Linked DNA regions of Homo sapiens. The protein of the gene in region 5 purifies or fractionates together with the protein of the main gene of each other region. This does not show direct contact. Each region holds a gene or a part of one and is shown on either strand. Other genes may lie near its edges. The genes, in order: SLC25A17, ADCK2, ABCB9, NPEPPS, LRRC8B, SLC44A1 and LMBR1.

What was found.
Region 1: the proteins of LRRC8B (region 5) and SLC25A17 purify together in Homo sapiens (affinity purification with mass spectrometry; 2 studies listed by BioGRID and IntAct, with this or other methods). This does not show direct contact.
Region 2: the proteins of LRRC8B (region 5) and ADCK2 purify together in Homo sapiens (affinity purification with mass spectrometry; 2 studies listed by BioGRID and IntAct, with this or other methods). This does not show direct contact.
Region 3: the proteins of LRRC8B (region 5) and ABCB9 purify together in Homo sapiens (affinity purification with mass spectrometry; 2 studies listed by BioGRID and IntAct, with this or other methods). This does not show direct contact.
Region 4: the proteins of LRRC8B (region 5) and NPEPPS purify together in Homo sapiens (affinity purification with mass spectrometry; one large-scale study listed by BioGRID and IntAct). This does not show direct contact.
Region 6: the proteins of LRRC8B (region 5) and SLC44A1 purify together in Homo sapiens (affinity purification with mass spectrometry; 2 studies listed by BioGRID and IntAct, with this or other methods). This does not show direct contact.
Region 7: the proteins of LRRC8B (region 5) and LMBR1 purify together in Homo sapiens (affinity purification with mass spectrometry; 2 studies listed by BioGRID and IntAct, with this or other methods). This does not show direct contact.

Annotation. Positions count from the first base shown.
Region 1 is NC_000022.11:40,791,847-40,795,346, forward strand, and holds part of SLC25A17 (peroxisomal membrane protein PMP34), read right to left. Parts: intron 2,735-3,500; coding exon 2,668-2,734; intron 831-2,667; coding exon 679-830; intron 1-678.
Region 2 is NC_000007.14:140,671,517-140,675,744, forward strand, and holds the start of ADCK2 (uncharacterized aarF domain-containing protein kinase 2), read left to right. Parts: upstream 1-1,428; 5' UTR 1,429-1,814; coding exon 1,815-2,747; intron 2,748-3,094; coding exon 3,095-3,241; intron 3,242-4,228. UniProt on the Homo sapiens protein: The function of this protein is not yet clear. It is not known if it has protein kinase activity and what type of substrate it would phosphorylate (Ser, Thr or Tyr).
Region 3 is NC_000012.12:122,931,978-122,935,463, reverse strand, and holds part of ABCB9 (ABC-type oligopeptide transporter ABCB9), read left to right. Parts: intron 1-32; coding exon 33-192; intron 193-3,135; coding exon 3,136-3,272; intron 3,273-3,486. UniProt on the Homo sapiens protein: ATP-dependent low-affinity peptide transporter which translocates a broad spectrum of peptides from the cytosol to the lysosomal lumen for degradation.
Region 4 is NC_000017.11:47,537,608-47,541,107, reverse strand, and holds part of NPEPPS (puromycin-sensitive aminopeptidase), read right to left. Parts: intron 1-3,500. UniProt on the Homo sapiens protein: Aminopeptidase with broad substrate specificity for several peptides. Involved in proteolytic events essential for cell growth and viability. May act as regulator of neuropeptide activity.
Region 5 is NC_000001.11:89,576,829-89,580,328, forward strand, and holds part of LRRC8B (volume-regulated anion channel subunit LRRC8B), read left to right. Parts: intron 1-2,762; 5' UTR 2,763-2,763; coding exon of another isoform or gene 2,764-2,826; 5' UTR 2,827-2,860; intron 2,861-3,500. Other genes in the region: uncharacterized LOC128092251, read left to right, coding at 2,764-2,826. UniProt on the Homo sapiens protein: Non-essential component of the volume-regulated anion channel (VRAC, also named VSOAC channel), an anion channel required to maintain a constant cell volume in response to extracellular or intracellular osmotic changes.
Region 6 is NC_000009.12:105,359,651-105,363,150, forward strand, and holds part of SLC44A1 (choline transporter-like protein 1), read left to right. Parts: intron 1-1,540; coding exon 1,541-1,680; intron 1,681-3,170; coding exon 3,171-3,357; intron 3,358-3,500.
Region 7 is NC_000007.14:156,722,184-156,725,683, reverse strand, and holds part of LMBR1 (limb region 1 protein homolog), read left to right. Parts: intron 1-158; coding exon 159-249; intron 250-1,505; coding exon 1,506-1,572; intron 1,573-3,500. UniProt on the Homo sapiens protein: Putative membrane receptor.

The DNA.
Region 1 (3,500 bases), on a different chromosome or scaffold from region 5:
AACAGAATTCCAAATGATCCAGCAATCCCACTTCTGGGTATATATCCAGAAGAATGGAAAGCAGGCTCTCAAAGAGAGAGCTACACATCCATTTTCATAGCACTATTCACAACAGCCAAAAGATGGAAGCAACTTAAGTGCCTATTAACAGATGAATGGATAAACAGAATGTGATATATACATATAATGGAATATTATTCAGTCATAAAAAAGTAAGGAAGTCATGTCACATGCTGTATGGCATGGATGAAAGTAGAAGACATTATACTAAGTGAAGTAAGCCAGTCACAAAAAAAACAAGTAGTGTATGATTCGACTTATATCAAGTATCTAAAGTAGTCAAATTCTTAGAAACCGAAAGTAGAATGGTGGTTACTAAGGGGCTCAGGGAAAGGGAAAAGGGGAGTTTAATGAGAATAGAATCAGGTCTGCAATATGCAAAAGTACTGGAGATTTGTTTCATAACATTGTGAACATGTTTAACACTACTGACCTTACACTTAAAATTAACATGGTAAATTTTATGTCACGTTTTTTAACACAATTAAAAAAAAAAAAACCAAGTTGGAAAACTGGCTATATTCTTTGTAAGCATTACTTTGGGCTAAATAACCTCTTAGAGGATATAAAACCACAAGGTAAATATAAAAACATTTTATACCCAGAAAACCTTGTTACCTGCAACAAACCCAACTACCAGATCTTTTCCAGTGGTAGAATGTTGACCTTTGACCCAGAGTGCTTTGAGGCTATTAAAAGTGTAGAAATAGACAAAATTGGAGCAGCAGAGACTGGAAATCACTGGAAACCACCCTCGATATGGTGCCAGGCTAGGGGAAAAACACAATAAGCAAAGTAAAGGTCATGGACAAATTAGAAATTGGCAGAGAAATCCTAGGAAAGGCTGACCATCATTCACATGGTCTCAAGCTTCACTCCTACACGAATACAAGGGACTCCAAACTGTACACACACCTCACATTCTGAAGGATGTCCAAATCAAGAAATCTATTCTAGCACTAATGATACCAAAGAAACAACACAAAGTCTGATTGATTTATTAATTCCCTCCCTTAATTTTCTTTAGTAACATTGGTATATAAAATTAGAGACAACTTCCTCATGGCTGTTAGTTAATAGAGTACCATTCATGTTTTATTACAGGGCAAGAACAGTTAAAATGAAGTAATTATAGGAAATAAGTATCAAAAAAAAAAAAGATGGGGGAATTCACAAGGGCACAGGAGCTCACAGGAGCTCCTACAGGCCAAATCTGGGGCAATTTGAATACCAAAATAATGAAGTACAGTAATCAATTGTAAACCATTGAAAAATAGACATTTCTGAGCCTATACCAATAATAAGTAGATAAATAAATGAAGGAGAAGGGGAGGTCCTGCTTATAGCAGAATGCCAACATTGGTACCTGTAGAGGCAATGCTGGAGTTGGAAAGTCGTCATTTTGCAACTTCGTGGTAAATTTAGGGGAAAAATGTTGATAAAGCACAGGATATTTGTATTGTTTTGAAGTATCTCCACATAGACTGCTTATAGTTGCAAGGGAAGAAAAAAGTAATTGCACAGTGGCTAAATCAAATTTAAGAAATCATAATTAGCCAACCAAAGGCAGGCAGACAATATGTGAGTCAAGATGTGATATCTTGAGAAGGACACAATATCACCTGTGCATTATTCAGGCCAATAATGTATAACCTCAATGGAATCATGAGGAAATGTGAGGCAAACTTAAAAATGAGAAACTTTCTATTTTCTTTTTTTTTTTGAAACGGAGTTTTGCTCTTGTTGCCCAGGCTGGAGTGCAATGGCGCGATCTCGGCTCACCGCAACCTCCACCTCCTGGGTTCACGTGATTCTCCTGCTTCAGCCTCCTTAGTAGCTGGGATTGTAGGCATGCGCTACCACGCCCGGCTAATTTTGTATTTTTAGTAAAGACGGGGTTTCTCCATGTTGGTCAGGCTGTCTCGAACTCCTGACCTCAGGTGATCCGCCTGCCTCGGCCTCCCAAAGTGCTAGGATTACAGGCGGACTGTATTGTTTAAAAGTGTCAGTGTCATGGGGCTAAAAGGCTTTGATGTATGTAACTTACTCTCAAATAATTCAGAGGAAATTTGTGTGTGGTGTGTGTAAGGAGAGAAGGGAGGTGGGAGAGAGACAGCATGAGCAAAAATAGTAAAACAAACAGGAAAAGATGTTAACAGATGAATCTGGGTAAAGCATATACTTGTCTTCTTTGTACTAAGTTTAGTTTTGCAAATTTTTGTAAATTTAAAATTATTTCCAATAAAAAGCTAAAACAAGAAGTACATAATCTGTCTTAATGCACCTGACAGGAATGAACTAAACAACTATTATTTTTTTTTCAGTTTACTGTATATAAAACAATGCATTTTAGTTTCATGGAAGACTCCATGATCAAGAATCAAATGGCTTAAGGTAAGCATTGTACAAAAATAAATAAAAAGAATCAAATGCCTCACTACAGATCTTTAAGAAACTGAAAACAATTATGTACTTATAAATCAGGCAATTCCAAATTCACAACATTAGAGTGCTGTGAGAAAGATAGAAAGTAAGCATAACTCTACTGGAAGCACAGGAATCTCCTAACAAGTTGCTTTAACGAAGGTGAACTGAGGTAGTACTCACAGTCCTTCTTCTTTAATGATCTCCAGGAGCACCATGTGTGTAGTTTTGGATTTTCTTTTCTCATCAACTACAAGACCAAACAGTGCATGTTTATTTTATTAATTAAAAAAAAAATTTTTTTTTTGAGACAGAGTCTCACTCTGTCGCCCAGGCTGGAGTGCAGTGGCGTGATCTCAGCTCACTGCAACCTCCACCTCCTGGGTTCAAGCGATTCTCCTGTTGCAGCCTCCCAAGTAGCTGGGATTACAGGTGCACACCACCATGCCCAGCTAATTTTTGTATTTTAGTAGAGGCGGGGTTTCGCAATTTTGGCCAGGCTGGTCTTGAACTCCTGACCTCAAGTGATCTGCCCACCTCGGCCTCCCAAAGTGCTGGGATTATAGGCATGAGCCACCGTGCCCCGCCTATTTTTTAATATTTTTAGAGACGGAGTCTCACTATGTTACCCAGGCTGGTCTCAAACTTGTGGGCTCAAGGGATCCTCATGCCTCAGCCTCCCAAAGTGCTGGGATTACAGGCGTGAGCCACCATACCCGGCCCGTGTATGTTTAAACTAAATCCTTTGAGGATTATAATTGTTAACATCAGCAAGTTTCACTGAAATGCCATTTACCTCACCTTTGAGCTCCCTAGGTTGCCCCAGAACTAAATGATGCCCCTGTGTGACCATGTGCTAAATTCCCACTGCAGATCCCTTGCCCTTCATCTGTTACTCATGAACCATAAAGCAGTCTAATTTAATTCCTAATTTCCAAAGGAAAAGACGACAGAAAACATTTCTTCCTTTTTTTTTTTTTGAGACGGAGTCTCGCTCTGTCACCCAGGCTGGAGTG
Region 2 (4,228 bases), on a different chromosome or scaffold from region 5:
TATTCAGCCAGTAAGGGCAGGATATTTGTGTCCGCTTTCCCAGGGTCCAGCACATGACCTAGCTTGATCAGTACATATTATTGAGCCTCGACAAATATGAGATTGGGCTCAAGAAATATTTATTGGGCTCAGTGAGTATTATTGAATGAATGAATATGGCCTTTCCGGAGCCTTTCCCCAAGGTCCAACACAATTGCCGAATTAATGCAGCCGAGGACACAGCATCCAGTTCCTACTCCTGCAGCCCAGTTACCCCCATCCAACACCACCCCCCTACCCAACCCCCGCTGAAAAGCGGACCTGTGTTCAGAACCTGCCTTCATACTTTTCAGCCATGCTCTTTGGAATAATGAAAGATACGAAGAAGTCAGTGGGAAGATAGACATGGGGAGGGGGACATAGAGGGTGCCTTTGCGTTTTGCTACCCAGGACCCAGGACTCAAGGGCAGGGTGGTCTTGGCCTGGGGTCGCCGTCCTCTTTAAGGGGCGGGTCAAGGGACCCTGGCTGCCCGGGCCTCTGCCACCGACCCTCTGCTCCCTCCGACCCTCACCGCCCAGCACCCAGCCCTCTGCCCCCACCGGCCACCCTGTAACAGCCCAGCGGGTTCACCTTGCCTGCTGCCTAGACAGAGCCGATTTATCAAGACAGGGGCATTGCAATAGAGAAGGAGTAATTCACACAGATCAGGCTGCGCGGGACACTGGGCAGAGTTTTTAAGGACAACTTGGTGGGTGGGGGAAGGCCAGTGAGTCGAGAGTGCTGATTGGTTGGGTCGGAGGTGAAATCTTAGGGAACTGAAGCTGTCCTCTTGTGCTGAGTTAGTTCCGGAGTGGGGGCCTAAGATCAGATGACCTGGTTTATCGATCTGGTAGGTGTCAGTTGATCCATCAAGTGCAGGGTCTGCAAAATATCTTGAGCACTGATCTTATTAGCAGTTTAGGGAGGGTCAGAATACTGTAGCCTTGCTGCCTGACTCCTAAATCATACTTTCTAATCTTTTGGTTAATTTGTTAGTCCTACAAAGACAGTCTATTCCCCAGGCAAGAAGGAGGTTTGTTTTCAGAAAGGGCTGTTATCATCTTTGTTTTAAACTATAAAGTATAAACTAAGTTCCTCCCAAAGTTAGTTCAGCCAACGCCCAGGAATGAACAAGGACAGCTTGGAGGTTAGAAGCAAGATGGAGTTGGTTAGGTCAGATCTCTTTCATTATCTGTTATAATTTTGCAATGGCGGTTTCAACCTAGTGGCCGAACCCGTCCCATCCATCTCCCGCGCCCCTCCGCTCCACCACAGCCCTCGGTGCCTCGGTTCCCTGCACCTGCACTCCCGCCCGCCCCCGACGCTCCGCCCCCGACGCTCCGCCCGCCCTCCACGCTCCGCCCCGCCCTCCCGGCCCCCGCCTGCGCCCGCGCCCTGGGCTGGTGCCCGCCACCCCAGCGATCTCATACTGGCCCCTGGGCGCACGGTGACCCTGCGGCTGCCCGGCCCCTGCCTCCGCCCGCGCGGCCCCCTCGCTCAGGTCGCGGGCGCCCGGGGCCTGGCTTCGCGTGGGTCCTGGCTCCTCCCGTTCCGCAGTTGGTGCCGTCTGACAGCCCCTTCCGCGCGGCGCGGCGCGGCGCGGCGGGTGTCGGGCGGGGCGCGGGCCTCCGGCCTGAGGCCCGGCGAGGTGCTGGAGGGAGCGGGGCGCGGATCCGGCCCAGATGGGCAGCTCCGTCCGCGGGGTCAGGGCCGGGCTTCGGCTTCACCGCAGCCTCGCCTGAGCGGGCGCCTCTGAAGTGGAGGGCGGGCCGCCTGGGCCGCGGGCCTCGGGAGGATGGTGGCGCCCTGGCGCGTCTCCGTCAGGGTTTGCCTGTCGCACCTGAGGTGCTTCGAGCTCAGACAGGGACTCAGCCTCCTGAGGCCCTCCGAGTGCCCTCGCGATGCCAGGCTCTGCTGGCTTCTGCTGGGCACTTTGCCCAAGGTCGTCTCCCTGTGCGGGGACGTGGGTGAGGGGGCCCCTGACGTTCTGAGTCGGCGAAGGGTCCGCTGCAGCGGGGCGGCTGGCGCGGGGCCCGCGGAGAGCCTCCCCCGAGCGGGACCTCTGGGCGGCGTCTTCCTGCATCTCCGCCTCTGGCTTCGCGCCGGCGCTCTGTTGGTGAAATTCTTCCCCCTCCTACTCCTCTACCCCCTCACCTACCTGGCTCCCAGCGTCTCCACCCTCTGGCTCCACCTGCTTCTGAAAGCCACCGAGACCTCAGGCCCAACCTACATCAAACTGGGCCAGTGGGCCAGCACCCGGCGCGATCTGTTTTCGGAGGCTTTCTGTGCCCAATTTTCCAAGCTGCATGTCCGAGTGACGCCCCACCCGTGGACTCACACTGAGCGCTTCCTTCGGCAGGCTTTTGGGGATGACTGGGGGAGCATCCTCTCTTTTGAGAACCGGGAACCTGTGGGCTCAGGCTGCGTGGCCCAGGTGTACAAAGCATACGCCAACACTGCCTTCCTGGAGACTGACAGCGTCCAGAGACTTGGCAGGGCCTCCTGTCTGCCGCCCTTCTCACATACTGGGGCAGTCGGTGGGCTGAGAGAGCTCTTTGGATACCTTGGAAATGGCCGGAAACCTCCAGAAAATCTCGCAGACCAGTCGTTTCTAGAAAGGCTGCTCCTCCCTAAAGCTGACCTGGTTGGATCAAATGCAGGGGTGTCTCGGGCTCAGGTCCCTGGCCACCAACCTGAGGCCACCAACCTCATCTCCGTGGCAGTGAAAGTAAGTGTTGTGAGAGCTCACAGCTCACCTACCCACTGAGCTATCCCAGATCAGAAACAACCGCCATGCAAATCGCCCCCACGTTTATTTCTATTTGCCTGACCAATATCTGAGTGCTTATTTCATGCAAGCTGTTTCATTTATTGGCTTGAAGTGGCGGTGTGAATAGTCTGATAGAGGAAAATGAACTGAGTCTGGAGTGAACTAACTGCTTGGGTGTCGGGACCACATCCTCTTTTCTTTGATAAGAAGCCACCTGGCTCTTGCTTGGATGGTGGGACCCAGCCCTGGCTGGGTAAAATGTGTCCAGCAGGTTTCTCCTGTCTCACGGTTCCTCTTTCTGACAGGTGTTGCACCCTGGCCTGCTCGCTCAGGTGCATATGGACCTGCTGCTGATGAAGATTGGCAGCCGAGTCCTGGGAGTTTTGCCAGGCATCAAGTGGCTTAGCTTGCCTGAGATTGTGGAGGAATTTGAGAAGCTGATGGTCCAACAGGTGAGTTCTCCTCCCCTCAGCTGTAAATAGCACCTAACATAGTTCTTGCCATTAGCTGCTACTTAGTAAATGTTGAATGAATAATTTTCTGGTATGTCATAACTCATGTGATGTGTTAGAGCTGGTAACACTAGCTGATAAAGAACATCCAAATCTCAGTGGCTTAATGCAACAAATTAATTTTTTGCTTATATCAAAGTTCTGGCCGGGCGTGGTGGCTCATGTGTGTAATCCTAGGACTTTGGGAGGCTCAGGCAGGTGGATCACTTGAGGCCAGGAGTTCGAGATCAGCCTGGCCAACATGGTGTAACCCTGTCTCTACTGAAAATACAAAAATTAGCTGGGCGTGGTGCTGCATGCCTGTAATCCCAGCTACTCAGGAAGCTGAGGCATGAGAATTGCTTGAACCCAAGATGGAGGTTGCAGTGAGATGACATCATGCCACTGCACTCCAGCCTGGCGACAGAGTGAGACTCCATCTCAAAAGAAAAATAAAAACAAAAAACAAAGTTCTATGCAGGTGAACTGAGGCAGAGAAAGGGAGCTCTTTATTTTATTATTTTAAAAACAGAGACAGGGTCTTGCCATTGTTGTCCAGGCTGATTTTGAACTCCTGGGCTCAAGCCATTCTCCCTCCTCGGCCTTCCAAAGTGCTGAGATGACAGAACTAAGCCACCGTACGGTCAAGAGAGGGAGCTCTACTCCCTAGTTTCAGGGGACTCAATTTCTTCCCAAGTTTGGCACTGCCTCCTTCAACATGTGTCATCTGGGGTCAGTGTGGATTGGAGGCAGAGGCCATGCAGGGTCATGTAATAAATTTTGTGGCCAGGCCTGGAAGTGGCAAACATCACTTCTTTCCTGTTCACTGATCAGAGCTGTAACTGCCTGGGCCCAGTGTAACTGTGAGCTTGGGAAATACAGTCTTCCTTTGTGACAAGGAAATGATTCTGGTGGAGAACATCTAGCATTATTTCTGCCATAATCAAT
Region 3 (3,486 bases), on a different chromosome or scaffold from region 5:
GCCTCTCATGCTCCATGCTCCCTCCTCCCCAGATCTCCCTGGTGAGCCAGGAGCCCGTGCTGTTCGCCCGCTCCATCACGGATAACATCTCCTACGGCCTGCCCACTGTGCCTTTCGAGATGGTGGTGGAGGCCGCACAGAAGGCCAATGCCCACGGCTTCATCATGGAACTCCAGGACGGCTACAGCACAGGTGTGGAGCTGGGGGTGGCCCCTCTCCTGGGCCCACAGGGTCACCCTCAGGGACATAACCCTCTGAGTTAAGCACTGCCCCCTGCCACCTGCTCTTTTTTTTGTAGAGATGGGGTCCCGCTACGTTACCCTGGCCAGACTCGAACCTCCTGCGCTCAAGCAATCTTCCTGCAATCCCCAAAGTGCTGGGATTACAGGCATGAGCCACTGTGCTGTGACTCAGCAAAATATTTATTAAGTAAATTATTATAGAAGCCCATACACTGGAATATTATGCTGCTGGGAAAAAGAGGAAGTAGAAGAAGGGGGAGGAGGTGGAGGCGGAGGAGGAGGTGGAGGCAGAGGAGGAGGCAGCTCTCCATATAGCAGTATGGAAAGGTCACTGAGATAGGATGCTGAGTGAGAAGAGCCAGGTGCAGAGCATAAGGAGCTGGGTTTTTTTTTTCCTATTAAAGGACTGGGGAGATAAAAATAACATGTTCATATTTGCATAAAGAAACTAGACAAGGACATGTAAGCAACTAATGAAAGACGTTTTGGTGGGAGCAGGAGGGAACTGAAGAAAGAACTTAAACTTTTCATTATTTAGAGTTTTATATATTTTTAGTTTTTTTAGTTTTTTTTTTTTTTTTGAGGCAGGGGCTTGCTCTGTCACCCAGGTGGGAGTGCAGTGGCGTGATCACGGCTCACTGCAGCCTCAACCTCTTGGGCTCAAGCCATCCTTCCACCCCACTTTTTATTTTTGTTGTAGAGACGGGGTCTTGCTATGTTTCCCAGGCTGGTCTCAAATTCCTGGGCTCATGCAATCCTCCTGCCTCCCAAAGTGCTGGGATTACAGGCATGAGCCATTGTATCCAGCCTGTATTTTTAGATTTTTGAACCACACGAATAGCCCCTTTTCAATAATTAAATATATACAATGTATAGGGGGGTTGGGGAGATGTTGATCAAAAGATAAAAATTTTCCCTTAGGAATAAGGTCAAGAGACCTGTTGACTATAGTTTTTTGTTTGTTTGTGTTTTAATTGAGACAGTCTCACTCTGTCGCCCAGGCTGGAGTAGAGTGGAGTAATCTTGCCTCACTGCAACCTCCGTCTCCCAGGTTCAAGCGATTCTCCTGCCTCAGCCTCCTGAGTAGCTGGGATTACAAGTGCCCACCACCACACCTTGCTAATTTTTTTTTGTATTGTTAGTAGAGACGGGGTTTCACTATTTTGGCCAGGCTGGTCTTGAACTCCTGACCTCAGGTGATCTGCCTGCCTTGGCTTCCCAAAGTGGTGGGATTTCAGGTGTGAGCCACTGTGTCTGGCCAGCTATATTTAGTAACAGTGTACTGTGTACTTGAAAATAGCTAAGAGAGTAGATTTTAAGTGTTCTCTCTTTAAAAAAGTGATAAATATGTGAGATAATGTATATGTTAACTGGCTTGATTTAGCTATTCCACAGTGTATATGTATTTCAGAGCATCACGTTGTACACCATTAAATACAAACTATTTTTACTTGTCAATTTAAAAGAATTTTTAAATTAAAATATACTAAATACACTAATTTTTAAAAAAATTACCTCGATATGAACTTAAGTAGTTCTAGTAATTAATTGATATAATAAATATATATTATTTTAGAATAGTGTTTTGAAATTCAGTAGAGGTGGTGGTTGTGCAACATTGTGAATGCACTAAATGCCACTGGATTATTCACTTTTTTTTTTTTTCTTGAGATGGAGTCTCGCTCTGTCGCCCAGGCTGGAGTGCAGTGGCGCGATCTCGGCTCACGGCAACCTCTTCCTCCCGGGTTCAAGTGATTCTCTTGCCTCGGCCTCCCGAGTAGCTGGGATTACAGGCATGTGCCACCATACCCGGCTAATTTTGTGTATTTTTAGTAGAGACAGGGTTTCACCATATTAGCCAGGATGGTCTCAATCTCCTGACCTTGTGACCCGCCCACCTTGGTTGGCCTCCCAAAGTGCTGGGAGCCACCGTGCTCAGCCCGGATTATTCACTTTACAATGGTTATGTTTATGTTATGTCAGTTTCATCTCAATGAAAGAAAAATGAAATAATAAAGAACTGGTGGCGTGGCCAGGTGCAGTGGCTCACGTCTGTAATCCCAGCACTTTGGAGGCCAAGGCAAGAGGATCGCTTGAGGCCAGGGGTTTGAGAACAGCTTGGGCAATGTAGTGAGACCCCACCTCTACAGAAAAATATTTTAAGTTAGCCAGGTGTGGTGGCATGCACCTGTAGTCTCAGTTACTCAGAAGGCTGAGGCTGGAGGATTGCTTGAACCCAGAAGTTTGAGGCTACAGTAAGCAGTGATTGTACTACTGCACTCTAGCGTGGGTGAGAGAGTGAGACCCTGTCTCTAAAATAATAATAATTGATTGACTCAATTTCCTATTGATGGACATTTGAGTCTATTTGTTTTATTTTTTGCAATAACAGCGCTGTGGGTCACAGGTGACCTGTGTCTATATTGTTGTGCATGGGAGGAAGTCGGTCCATGGGGAAAATTGGTCCAGGTGGGCTTGCGGGGCCACAGGCCACACATCTGTGGTGAATACACACAACCTTTGCACTGCACAGACTCATAGACCCAGGGTTATTGCTGCAGCTCTTCAAGCCATGGGGCTCGCTCCAACTCCCCTTCTCCAGGAGGACGGGTGAGGGCCTGTCTCCCTGCAGCCTCACCTGCACTGTGTGCTATCAGATGTTTGGGTTTCTGCCAAATGAATGAGTGAAAATTGGTAACTTGCTATCAATTTGCATGTAGGCTTAATCTGCATGCCCCTTATGAGTTGGGTGGGGGGAACATCATTTCATGAGCTTTCAAGTTGTGGGTTCCAGCCCGCCCTTTCCACAGCTGCAGGGCAGGGCCTCTCACTCTTCCCCGGTGCTGCCCGGCCTCACCCATTGCTAAATTGTCTCTGTGCCTCCACCATACAGAGACAGGGGAGAAGGGCGCCCAGCTGTCAGGTGGCCAGAAGCAGCGGGTGGCCATGGCCCGGGCTCTGGTGCGGAACCCCCCAGTCCTCATCCTGGATGAAGCCACCAGCGCTTTGGATGCCGAGAGCGAGTATCTGGTGAGTCACAGGGTGGTGGGCAATGCGGGGGCAGGAGCGGCTCCAGGTGGCCAGAGCCCCCATCGCCCAGCAGATGGATGCTGAGAAGAGACGGGCCCCAGGAGCTCTCCCAGACTATCAGCCTCCTGGGCTGGTGAATTCCTGGTGTTGAGAGTGGGGAGCCAGGAGCCACTCTGGACCCAGCCTCCAGGCTCCAGGCAGAGCTGTATGGTGT
Region 4 (3,500 bases), on a different chromosome or scaffold from region 5:
AGAAAGTATTTGTGCATTTTGGAAAGGCACCATGCACAACATCCAATTACAAGTACCTTCCAACTCCTCCTGTGTTTAAGGGAAACTCATCTATTTATACTAATGAATTAAGCTGTTTCTTGAATTGTTACTAATTTTTTTTTTCCAGGATACTACCATTTCTGGAAGGGTGGGAGGGAGGAACCAAAGGAACAAAGGTACTTATCTTAAAAATAGAAATCCATTCACATTTTAAAAATTGGTCAGCATCTTGTCTTATATTAGAGATGCACTTATTTAAAAAGTTGACCAATAATGGGATAATCTATGTAAAGTCTCTGTTTTAGCACTTAGTGCTTCATATGTAGTCATCACTTAATAGATGTTAAGACATACACATACACACACACAGGTTAAATTGTGCTCTCATATCATCTAACAGCATTCACCTAACAGTTTATAAAGCTTCTGATCAGAATGATATGAAGTTTAAAAACTATGTATTGTATTATATGGCACTTTGGATATCAGCACATGTGTACTACCCCAAGAAGGTAATTTAAAATATCTGTTTGGACATAAGTGTATGTGCTGACTACAACGCAGTATAACACTGCTCATTGTGATGCTGCTCTTCCAAACAGTAGTGCTGACCTGATGGTGTAGTACATGATTTCCCACCTTTGACACCTTCATGTTAGTAAATATTAGCTGTGTGTTCCACTATCAAAAAAACAGGTAATAATTCAAAGAAATTTCAGCATTAAAATCTTCAGTTTCCCAGTTTAAAACACAAGTGAAACAAGGTTGGCATATAAAAGTGCACTGATAACAAGCTCATTTTCAATTTTTCTACTTGATGTTATTAAAGGATAGAATGTTAGTGTATCCTTGCTTTGTTTCAAACCCAGGATTAAGTCTTCTTGGCCTCCTATATAGACTGCACTTCAACTGAGCCAAATACTAAGTAAGGGCTGTACCAAAGAGGCAGCTTGACGCCTGGTAACAACTTTACAATGGAAGTTTCCTATGAGATAGGGAGGCAGAAATCGGAGATAACATTTTCCTGAATGAGTCTTTACTACAGTCACTCAGGAACATATCTTACATGTAAGATAGTAAGACTCAAGAGGGTTTTTTTCTGATTGTCAATGTCCTGAGATTTCAGTAAAAGAAAATCTCCAGTGTGACAATTCCAAATGCCAGTCTGAAGCCTGAGTCAATTTGCCTAATAAAACTGATTTCACCATTAAAATAGCAATAATTGTTGCCTTGGTGGAACAGTTCTATAATAGCTAAAGACAAGAAGAAGCAGATAATTAGTAAACTCAAGTTGAGCCAAGTTTTCTAACAAGAAACATTGAAAAGAGCCACTTGCAGAAGGTCAAAAATAATTACCATTAATGTAAAAATGCAAAAGGCACAGAATATTGGTATGTGATGTTTGTGGCTACTAATATGCAATTAAAGTTTTAAACTATACATAGGAATAAAAAGGAATAATACGCACCTACCTGAAGAAAGAAGTTACTTCTAGAGGCAGGGTGGGACGAGATGGAAATGGGCTTTAGTGATATCTGTGACATTTTATTCCCCCCCCAAAAAAAGCATGCACAGTCTGATGAAAATGGGGCAAAACGTTAACATCTGTTTAATCTCATAGTGTGTGACTTTCTTGTATTTCTAAAATATTTCCTAATTTAAAATAAAATTTTAAAGAGATTACAAGTGACCAAATAAACCAAGGACCACATACTTGTATGGTGTTCAAAACGAAATCACTAAAATCTAGAGAACTAATCTCAGTTAACAAAAGCCATCCGAAGGCTCAGATATTTCCCACTGACTCACATACAGATTAGAGTAAGATTTACTTCACAATAAGAGCAGGCTCATTTATGTGGCAAAGTTCGGAGAAGCTTCACAGATAATTTACTACTCAAGACCACATTTACCCAGGTTGTATCAGAGTATCAGTTGTATCTAGAACCAGGAGGCTAAAAAGAAAAAAGAAAAAAAAAAAAAAAAGGCCTAGATGAAAAGCCAAAATAGGTGATACAAAGTCCGTACAATAAAACGCATACCCTTTACTCAGAAGAGAATCCAACAAACTCTCACACAGCAATTGATTTTTTAGCCCAAACAAGCTTGTTTATCTGGCTACTAAGGCTTCTTCAGATGAAGTTCAGTAAAATACAAGAGGGAAGAAATTGCACAACAGGCAGCAACAAGGCACAATAAGCAGCAAGAAGAACATGAGAGTAAGGAAAACAAAACAACTTTAAAGAACAGATACAGGCTGGCCGGGTGCGGTGGCTCAGGCCTGTAATCCCAGCACTTTGGGAGGCCGAGGCGGGTGGATCACAAGGTCAGGAGTTCGAGACCAGCCTGGCCAATATGGTGAAACCCCTTCTCTACTAAAAATTCAAAAATTAGCCTGGCATGATGGCAGGTGCCTGTAGTCCCAGCTACTTGGGAGGATGAGGCAGGAGAATCGCTTAAACCCGGGAGGCGGAGGTTGCAGTGAGCTGAGATCACGCCACTGCACTCCGGCCTTGGCGACAGAGCAAGACTCTGTCTCCAAAAAAAAAAAAAAAAAAAAGAAAACAGATATGGACTAGGCGCGGTGGTTCATGCCTGTAATCCCAGCACTTTAGGAGGCAGAGGCAGGCGGATCACCTGAGGTCGGGTGTTTGAGACCAGCCTAGCTAACATGGCGAAACCTGGTCTCTAGAAAAATACAAAAATTAGCCAGGTGTGGTGGCATGCACCTGTAATCCTAGCTACTAGGGAGGCTGAGGCAGAAGAATCCCTTGAACTAGGGAAGTGGAGGTTGCAGTGAGCCGAGATCGCACCACTGCACACTCCAGCCTGGCCTAGGCAACAGAGTGAGACTCTGTCTCAAAAAAAAAAAAAAAAAAAAAAAGAACAGATATGGCTAGGCGCGGTGGCTCACACTTGTAATCCCAGCACTTTGGCAGGCGGAGGCAGGCAGATCACCTGAGGTCAGGAGTTCAAGACCAGCCTGGCCAACATGGTGAAACCCTGTCTCTACTAAAAATACAAAATTAGCCAGGCGTGGTGGTGCATGCCTGTAATCCCAGCTACTAGGGAGGCTGAAGCAGGAGAACTGCCTGAACCTGGGAGGCGGAGGTTGCAGTGAGCCGAGATTGTGCCACTGCACTCCAGCCTGGGCAACAGAGCGAAACTCCGTCTCAAAAAGAAAAAAAAAAGAAAAAAAAAAACAGATATGAAACTGATAAATTATAGTACATAGTTTGGGGTCAATGAGAGATGTTCAAAATAAAGTTCAGTATTTAAAAAAAACAATGAAACAAACCTACACTATGAGGAATTGCAAAGCATAAAAAGATAATGTATTTTAGAAATATTTCCATTCAGATTAGTCAACTTTTTTTTTTTTTTTAAAGACAGGGTCTCGCTGTGTCACCCCGGCTGGAGTGCAATGGCGTGATCTCAGCTCACCGCAACCTCCGCTCCTCCGCTTCCCGAGTTCAAGC
Region 5 (3,500 bases):
TATATCAAATGTTATTGCCGGTGATCATTTAAGCACTTGAAATATGTTTAATGCTTGTCATTAAATCTCTCAAGAATGGTGAAATGAGTTACTTAGCATAAAGAAAAGGGGCATATTAATCAGAGATACTGATGCATTGTTTCCTAGAGAGAGAACTCAACAAAAGGCGAATTTAAATTTCAGTTAGATATATGTTAGTCCCAAGAAACATCTTAATGGGAAGTAGCACTAAACATTTTGAAGGGATATAAGGTGATTTTTAAATCAATTTTCAATGAGAGTAGTGTAGAGAACCGCTATTTGGAATTGTTCGGCTATAATCCCTGCCTGGGGTCAGAGACAGATCTTTGAAGTAGCGTCCTCTTCTCAGTATATAATGACACTAAATACCATCTGATCATCATTTGTTTATTTTTTCACTTGTTATTTTAGAAATGCTTTCAAAGTAAAATAAGGACTACTGGGAAGTAAAGATGCCTAACTTGAATGTTGATGTTACAGTCTTAGAGACTTTGGAGTAAGATTGTCAAGTGAATTCATGTGTTTTGAAAAAGCTTTTATGACTTCTTAATGAGGTTTAAAAGCTGAAATAATGGGATTAGAACCGTAAAATCCATTACTCTTAACATTTCTTTGGATTGATTTAGTGTGTTTGTATATTAGAAATAGATATTTTATTTGGATTGAATCATCATTGTTTACTAAAATATGGTCTGGAAACAATTTCCTGGACAGACAGTATTAAATGGCATAATGACAAAAGATAGCTATGCTTAAACTCTCTAGTTAAGCACTTCAAATAGGAAAATTATCATCATTTTATACATAGGAATGCTGAGATGTTTTATATATACTTAAATCCAGATGCTATATATTTAAATATTAAGTTTTAGTTCAGTAGAAAATATTTAGTAGGAAAATGTTTAGCTGAGAAAGTAGATTATATGTAACGGAAGACATTACAGAAAACTACATTTGCATCCTTATTCAAACCCAGTTATAATGCAGTTATAACCCAGTTATAATGCAGATATTGGATGAGTTGGGAAAGAGCGCTAATTAGCTTTTTCTTCAGCTTTTGAGAGACCTAAGACTGTGGCGTAGTTAATTGGATTGACTGAGGCCATGTGGTCTGGTGTGCATGAGGTTGGGATTTGAGTATGAGGACCTAAGTTCCAGTTGCAACTTTATTTCTTAGAGGTTTTGTCACCTTGGGCAAGGTTAATTCTTTGGGACTGCCTTAATTTCTATGCATATAAACATAAAGAGTAATACTATTTATTTCAATGGCTTGTTTTAAGTATAAAACAAATTAATGTAAATGAGACATGCTTTGAAGGTAGAAAAACAGATGTTAAATTATTAATAAAGTAGAAAGTATATTTCTAATATTTAAGGAGAACTGTATAAGAAGAATCATGGCTGAGTAACATTTTTGAATTATGCAATAAATTCTTTTCTGGCATGTTACAAATGCAGCCGCTATGGAAGAATATGTAAAATGTTTCACACATCAGATGTCTTTATCATGCTCAGTGCACATAAATGCAGTCATGTGATATATGTTGTAAGACTTTTATAAAGGCTTGTGAATTGTGAATGAGAAATCTTACTCCAGTTGTGCCCTGTAGTTATGAATTAGTGTACAGCTAGGTTCTTATACATACTAACTGTGCTTTCTAACCTGCAAAACAATTTGATGCTGGATGGTGACTAATTGTAAAATAGGCTTTGCACATGACTTGGTAAACCCAAAGTAAGTTTTGGACATGCCCAAATTTTTGATATTTGAAATGACAAGCTTAAAAGATTATTGCTAAAAGTATCTTAAATACAATTTGGGGTCAGTACTCTTAGGAAGATTTGAAGTACTTTTTAAAAAGGATTGTATAATACAAAATCTCCCTAGAAACTTTTTTTTTGAGGTTTCATAGGCACTAAAAGATATAATTTTTACTTTCAATTAAAAACAAATTCTAGCATTTTACAATTTTCTCACAGTTCAAATTATCAATATATATGTAATTTAACTATCACAAATTATTGAACTATAAATGTTACAAATGGCTTTTATTAAACTCTAAATTAAACAAATCTAATATAAAGCCTAAGTATGTTTAATAATAACATAATTTCAAGTAATTTCAGCCATATTTCTGAGCTGTATCTGAAAAAGTATATTAACTTATCACTTTTTCTAATGAGATTGGTAGGCTAAATTTTAGGAGCACTGAGACTTATTTGGATAGATGTTTGGTTTTAAATATGGGTACAGAAATCACTTGGTGTGACAAGCTGTCTGAAAAATGCAAATAAGAACGACTGTGTTTGAGGAATGAGTGAGAGAAATTAACATATGTCGACTACTTAGAAAAGCTGTGTTCATCTAAGTGTTGTAGACACAGAATTTTAAAATATGTTGTGTTTAAATTGCTGTGGGAACTAACCTGTAATTGAAAGGAAGTTCAGGGAGTGAGTATGGTTTAATGAATGTGAGTGGGGCCCTGTAGATACACCTTTGCCAGAATGTGCCCCAGTGTGAAAAGTAAACTGACCTATGAAAATCTAAGCCAGGCACAGTGGCTCACACCTGTAATCCCAGCATTTGAGAGGCCAAGGTGGAAGGATTGCTTGAGGCCCAGAGTGTGAAAATCTATTTGCCATGTCATGTCTTATGACTGAGAGGGCTTCTGGAGACAGTATCTCCAGTTTGTTTGTTTGAATGACTGTAGCTATTTCAAGATATCTATGTTTTCTCATAGAATGAAGACAAACACAGAGATGGTGTGTCTAAGAAACTTCAAAAGGTGTAGACCTCCTGACTGAAGCATATTGGATTTATTTAATTTTTTTCACTGTAGTAAGTATAAATATTTAAAACACTTTTTTTGGTCAATGTTGACTTGTATTTTTATTGAATAAATATTCACTCTGTCAAATACCCTTATCATTGTTAGAGCTATTGTTGTTTTCATTCTTCTACAATTTCAGTTGCATATCTTAAATGAATTTAATTCTCAGGACCTTTGAGAGGACAAATGAAACATGAATTTAGAGCTGAAAGAACCCTTTGAAATTATCTGCTTCACTCTTTTTATCCATTACAAGAAATTCCTTTGCAACTCTCCTGATGGATGGTCATTTTATTTATCAAGATTCTGCTCAGGACATAGAGCTGAACTGTTTCACAGAGCAGCTAGTTCGATGACTTTCCACCACAGATTGAATCAAAATGTGATTTTCTAAAGCTTCCATCTACCTGGTTCTACCTTGGGAACAAATCCACTATTCTTTCACCTGTGAGGTTGTTGCGCAAAAATGTAAAGATAAATTCTCGGGCTCACCTAGTCATCTATTATTTCAGCTGAATATCATCGATTGCCCGTGTTCCTCTGTAGGAAACGGTTTAGAAACAACAGCTCCTGGTTGGTTTTTTGCCCATTTTATCTTTAACCTGTAACTGAGCATTGGGTTTCAGTATTGTGATCTCACGAGGCAGG
Region 6 (3,500 bases), on a different chromosome or scaffold from region 5:
TTTTTTAACTTCAGCTTTTCTCCTATAATTCATTTCTGTATGTAGGAAACATATTTTCTTCCATTTTCTGAATATATTAAACATTTTTCCAGACAATTTTCTTGTGCCTGCAAGACTTCAAAATGGAAACATTCCCTTGCTCTAAAATGTTTTTCACCAATTTCTGGTAGTTTTGATTTGTTTCCTCCTCTTCAACAGATGGAAAATTTGTACTTGGTATTTGCCAACAAATAGGTAATGGAATTTGCCTTTGATCTCATTAACTCTTGAGTGCAGATGTTGATGTACATCGACTTTGCTTCAGTTTTTTATATCCCAGACATTTATCATATCAGCCACACACACACATGTCTCTACTCTGAATCATCCATTTTTTCACTGTGACCTACAAGGCCTTACAGTGTGGTCTGGTCCGCAGCTACCTCTCTGCCCACATCTCTACCACTTTCCGCATTGCTCATTGCAGTAGCCACAATGGTCTTCTTTCTCTCATACTAGGCATGGTTCTACCTCAGTCTCTTTGAACTTTGCCTGGGACACTCTTTCCTTAGATAGTGTCATAGATTGCTCTCTGTCTTTGATTCCATTGCTCAGATATCATCTTACTAATACCAGTGAGGCCTTGCTTACCCATCTTATATAAAATTGCAAAGCTTTCCCTACCCAGACACTCTATATCCTTCTTACCAGGAGATCATTTTTTCTTTAGACTTAATATACTGTATTTTTCCTTGTTTTCTTATTTTTTTGTTTCCCTATTATTATATAAGTTCCATGAACAGCAAGAGTAAGAACTTGGCTTTGTTTACTGTTCTATCTCCAGCTAGAACAATAGGTGCTGTAGCATTCAAAATGCTGAATGGGTTGAAAGTAGGTATATAAGTCAGCTCTCATATGTGGAGGTAGGTTTGTCTCCCTCTTCAGTCTGGTTCTTTGAATCTCTCAACCGGTGTTGGAGATTTAAAAATGCTTATCCCTAGCACCCACCACTATCAGAGATTTCCTCTTTGTTCCTCCCTTTGGTGGGAACTGTTCTTTTGATTTGCATTTATTCATTGTACAAATACTTAATCAACTGCATTACTGTGTCAGTGCAAGTCACAGAGGTATCTGTGATGAGTACAACAGAGAAGATCCTTGCCCTCTTTAAGCTTCATTGATGTTTTCTGTGATGCTTATTTCCTTCCTCCAGCCTCCTCAGCTTAAATGCTGAGGCTCTTTCTTTGTGGTCAATTCCTGTCAGGGGTGTATGTTTCTACTGGCTCGCTCTTAGCTTCATAGTCAATAATAAATACATTTGAAGGAAGCTTATTTGATACACTGAAGGATTTATAAATGCTTAATGTGGAGGATGATAATAGAGCAATGGACACTTTCTTTATGCTGGCAAAAAGTTATAGCTATGTACTTCCCAGCCAAATGGATTGTCACTGCATTAGTCCCATGATGATCTGTAGGAAGGGTCAAGAAAATTGAGAATTTATGTTACACATTTTCTTATCCTAATTATTGCATTAACAGTTGGGTCTTTTGTCTCCAGGAGGCACAGGTGTACTATGGTGGCTGTATGCAAAGCAAAGAAGGTCTCCCAAAGAAACTGTTACTCCTGAGCAGCTTCAGATAGCTGAAGACAATCTTCGGGCCCTCCTCATTTATGCCATTTCAGCTACAGTGTTCACAGTGAGTTTAGGCTTTGGCGTGTCTTTCGGTTTTGTGTTTTTGTTTGCAGGAGATCATTAATGGAGCAGAAACTCAAATCTAGCTTTTGCATTCCTAACCCTGATCTCCAGTAGATAATATCTCTGTGCCATAGTGTATGAAACACTAAAAAGTCTCTTGAAGGCTTCCCTCATGGATGAGTGCTATTTGATGAAACATTTTTTCTACCCTGTCTGCTTTTTGAGAGAGGATTTTCACCTAGAATATTTACATTACCATTTGCTTACAAGAACATATTTCTTATTGTCATAAGATAATTACTTTTTAAAAATGGTTCCCTTTACTGTAGAAAAGTATGTTAAAAAATATATCATTCCATTTACTTGTTTGCTAATTATCTTCCCATTTGTCTTTCAAACTTTTCATTTAACTTTATGGCGTTATTTCAAAAATATAGGTGTGGTCAGGTACAGTGGCTTATGCCTATAATGCAAGCACTTTGGGAGACTGAAGTGGGAGGATCACTTGAGCCCACGAGTTCTAGACCAACCTGGGCAAGATAGTGAGACCCTGTCTTCACAAAAAATTAAAATCAGCTGAGCATGCTGGTGTGCACCTGTGGTCCCAGCTACTCGGGAGGCAGAGGTGGGAGGGTCACCTGAGCCATGATTGTGTCACTGCATTACAGCCTAGGCAACTGAGTGAGACCTTGTCTCCAAAATATATATGTGTGTTTGTGTGTGCGTGTGTGTGCGCGCGCGCGCGTGTGTGTGTGTGTGTGTGAGATTTGCTGCTTAGGTATTAAGCAATAAAATTACCAATTAACATGTGGTTAAATAATTTATATGTATACCTTTGGTTCATCATCGTCTTCTCTCTGAAAAAAGAAAAAAAATCAGTCTACTTCTAAGAGCAATCCCAAGCTTTTTATTGAGCATCAGAAACAAAAAATAAAGCCATCATAAAACCATTGGTGCCAAAAGATATTTGTTAGTTATTGTTATACAGATATTACAACAAAATATGAATGAAATCTCATTTTAGGTACAATTTGCTGTGCCAGCTGCTGAAGATGGGATGTGGGGGTGGGAGGAGGCAAAGGGTGAATCTGACACAGATCCCACTTTTAAGGAGCTGTTGGTCTAATAAGGAAGATACAAATAAAAACCTCGTTTTTGTGGTGTATCTGTTTAAATAAATAAAGAGTCTCATCCTGACTGACAGTATGTTTTGGTTCATAATGAGTGGCAAAGGGAAAAGGAAAAAAATTCTAGAATGTATTAATAAGTTGAGAAATCCTTTTATGTTTTGCTTTAAAGGTCACTTGGTAACCATAATATAAAATTGACAATAAATATTGCAAGAGAGATACTTACTGATAAAGTATTATTGAAATTCAAAGAATGCTACCTCCAGGTTTGGGGCTGAAGGGTTATGTTAAAAATTTCTACTATTTTCGGTTTCTGTTTTCACTACTTATAATAATAACTGAAACCATTCTCTCCATACAGGTGATCTTATTCCTGATAATGTTGGTTATGCGCAAACGTGTTGCTCTTACCATCGCCTTGTTCCACGTAGCTGGCAAGGTCTTCATTCACTTGCCACTGCTAGTCTTCCAACCCTTCTGGACTTTCTTTGCTCTTGTCTTGTTTTGGGTGTACTGGATCATGACACTTCTTTTTCTTGGCACTACCGGTAAGAAGATAAGCTTCTTTCTCTTAGTGACAAACGTGATTTGCATTCCAGTATTTTAGAACATCAGAGAGAGGTAATTCTTCAGACATTTGTTGATGAAGGTCCAATAGCCATCAGAACTTGTAGTGGTTATGGCTCCTCAA
Region 7 (3,500 bases), on a different chromosome or scaffold from region 5:
CACTTGTCTAGAAGAGAAAACAACAGGTTAGTCTTCCTCAAGCACTTAAAGCGGCTTTTTGTTTTGCTTTTCCTATGGGCCTTAAGACTTTTTGGAGACTGCCGAGAACTTAGGAAACTTGCATTCTGTTGGAGAGTTTTTTTCCTTGATTCTCACAGCTATCTTATGGTGTCCTCTGTTGTCGGCTTCTATAGCCTTCGATTTTTTGGAAACTTTACTCCCAAGAAAGATGACACAACTATGACAAAGGTAAGGTAGAATCTTAGGTGACTGTGGCCTCTCGTTTGCCTTCCCTGACAGACTGCTTTATTTAATAGTCATTCTGAATGGTTCATTTGCAGTGATAGGTATTTGTTTGTAAGTTGCGTAAACACAAACTGGAAGATTTTCAAAATGCTGAGTGAGTGGGAAAGGGATGTACCCTGTTTAATTTGGATGGCGTCCATTCACTGTAAATGCGGAGAACTGCAGAGCTTGTTAACTAGCTATAGAAGGCTCCTGAAAGGACTCTTTTTCCTCTAAAGAAAACGTATTGCTAATGAGTAACTTGGATTGTGCTAACTGTACTTCAGGGAGCTTGTTTGAAGTCTGAAGAACTTAGTTGCTACAAGTAGTAGGGACAAAGTATTTCAAATTTGAATAATTAAAGTAAGACGGAAGAGTTCTATTCAGAAACATTTTGTAGTCTGAGGCTAATTTGACTTTTTCCACAACATGTCATTGGGTTCAGAATAAAAAGGCTGTTGCCGTATATAGTGACTGAATCTTTATAAAATATTCCCGTAGGCTGACAAAGAAGAATAACTAATAAGAGCTGAAAGCTTGTTTTGTTTTTATTTTATATTTTTAGCCTACTTAAAGGGGAGAAGTTATTTTACACACACACACACACACACACACACACACACACACACACACAGCTATTTCTTTAAACTTAATAAGTAGTTGAGATATTTAGTATCTAGTTTAAGTGATCATAAATATTAATTGATATTTTCAACTCCTCTTATTTACTATGGAAGAATAAACATGGGATGCATTATTACAAAAGTTTAGAGGTTTTGGATTTCTGGTGCTTTTTAAATCTTACAATTAACATTAGAAATAGATGTGATAAAAGAGATCTTAAGCAATAATCTGGCCTTAAAAATGTAGTCAGAAGTATCCAATATGTTAATTATTTTTTGCTTGACAGGCAGAGCCTTTTGAAAGTAACAGCTGCAATCAGTAATGTAAAGTGCATTATCTAGGTGTCAAGTAATTTAAGTATTCTATAACTATATCTGTGCTAGGTACTGTAAACATCTTCTAGAACTTACAGATATAACTTTATTTATTTTAAAAGTGTGTTATTCTTTGAAAATTCTGTACTGAATAGTATCATTAAGAAATCGGCAAAGTACACTAGGTAACTAGAATGCACAATCATTTCTCAGAATGTTACTGGGTTTGATTGTCATCCTGCTGTTTAACTGCCCAATATTCTTTCTCGTTTCTCATAACAGATCATTGGAAATTGTGTGTCCATCTTGGTTTTGAGCTCTGCTCTGCCTGTGATGTCGAGAACACTGGGTAAGTTTCAGTGAGAAATTTTCACTTAAAGATCCATGTTTTTAAAAACTGTCTTTACTGAACTTATTTAACATTTACTCATAAAGATTACCTTTGAAATACAGTGTTTCTTCCTACATTATTTTACACTTTTACTTCTATACTTTATGTATAGGGGCATACCAAGACAAATACTTTTATCAAATAATGACTACTTATTTTTTAAACACTTAAAAGCATTCTTTCTCCAAACAACGGGCTGGTTTTTGTTGTATTTTGTTTTTACTGACACATCTATAAGTTAGGCTTTCGAGTCCTCTAGTGAGGAAACTGCATTAAACTAATTTTTCTATTTAAAAGCTTTTGAGCGTTTATAATTTAGTATGGTTTAAAAAATTGAAAATTTGTAAATTATTTTAAGCTGCTTTGTGTCCACAAAATAGAGGTGAACGCAGTGTAATCTCTGAGAACACACTCTGATTCAAAGGACACCCTTGAGAGTTCCTACTTGCCTGTCATTCATTTCTGTCATTTTCTTATTGTTTCAGTTTACGGAGAATTTGATAATCTTTTAAAAGAAAAACAGATTTTTGCTTTGTCATTGAAATAGTTGAGTAAGTCTTCCCTTAGTTGTCTTTTATAAAATGCTATTGTAGACCATATTCTGAGTTCTTCACTAAATATTATTTCAGACAAAAGTTTCCATTAAGCATTTCTATCTAATTCTCTAGACTTAGGTTTTGACTTAAGAGTGCACACGAATGATTGGAAAATTTTGATCATTAAATTTTAGCTACTTGCTCATAACAAAAATTGCTGGTAACTTTGAGTTGCTTTTGCATTAGCTCTCATATTGCCTCCATTATTTATTGAAGACTTACAGATACCAGGGATGCAGGCTGTGCAAAGAAAGTAGAAGCTTTGTAGTTATCTTCATAATTCTTACAAAGGATTTCATGTTTGTAATAGAAAACAAAAAGTATAAATGTAAAGGGACCACTGTTCCATAAGCTAATAAAAAACTGGTGTGTGTAATAGTCTTATTTCTTTTGTGTTTGCTTTATAGGACTTGTAATTGTTTTGACATCTGCTTATGTGAATCTTGAAAATGCCAAAAGTATGCTCTTTAGCAACCTGATTTGATGTTAAATGTTATCATTTATATTATGACAGTCTATTAAATAATTTCTGTTATATTTCAGCCAACCTATCATTTTAATACTTAGGAAACTCATTCACTGTACTATTATTTAAGATTGATTGCTAATCATTAATATATACCGATTTTATGGAAGAAAATTACATGCTGAGTATAGTTTTAACACAAAGAAAACAAACTAATGGTAAAATTTACTTTTTGAAGGCCAACAAATTAAATTCCAGAGTAGTTTGCCATAGAGATAAATAAAAAGAAAAAAAAGAAAGATGGAACAATTAAAATGCAGCTAACAAATGCCTGGACCCAGCTGTCCAAACAGGATTAATGGAGTGCATTAGGGTACAGTGAGTCATGTGGTGCTTTGCAAAATATCAACACGCACTGCATTACATGTTATGCCCAGTGGCATTGAATAGATGAAAAGAAATAAATACGTTAAACAGATTCATAGAGGCTTTTCACAGTATTAAAAAAGCAAATTTCTAGACTAAAAGAAAAAGCTTTATTTTAGCATTATGGGAAATGCAAACTAGAGAGTTACTTTGTAATTCCTCTATTAACCCTTTAGAATTGAGTCTTTGATTTTAAGAAGATAAAATATAGGGAATTGTCATGAATATTATCCTAGTGTATAACAGGATTTTGATTTACCAGCTGAAAAGCTTATAAGACTAGAATAGAGGATGTATTTAAGCAATCAGATTCCAAGCTGTGACATTTTTCAGTCTTTCTTGTCGCCTCTCTCAAGGAAACCCTGACCTTAGTGTGGTCTCCTTTGCTCCTGTGAAAT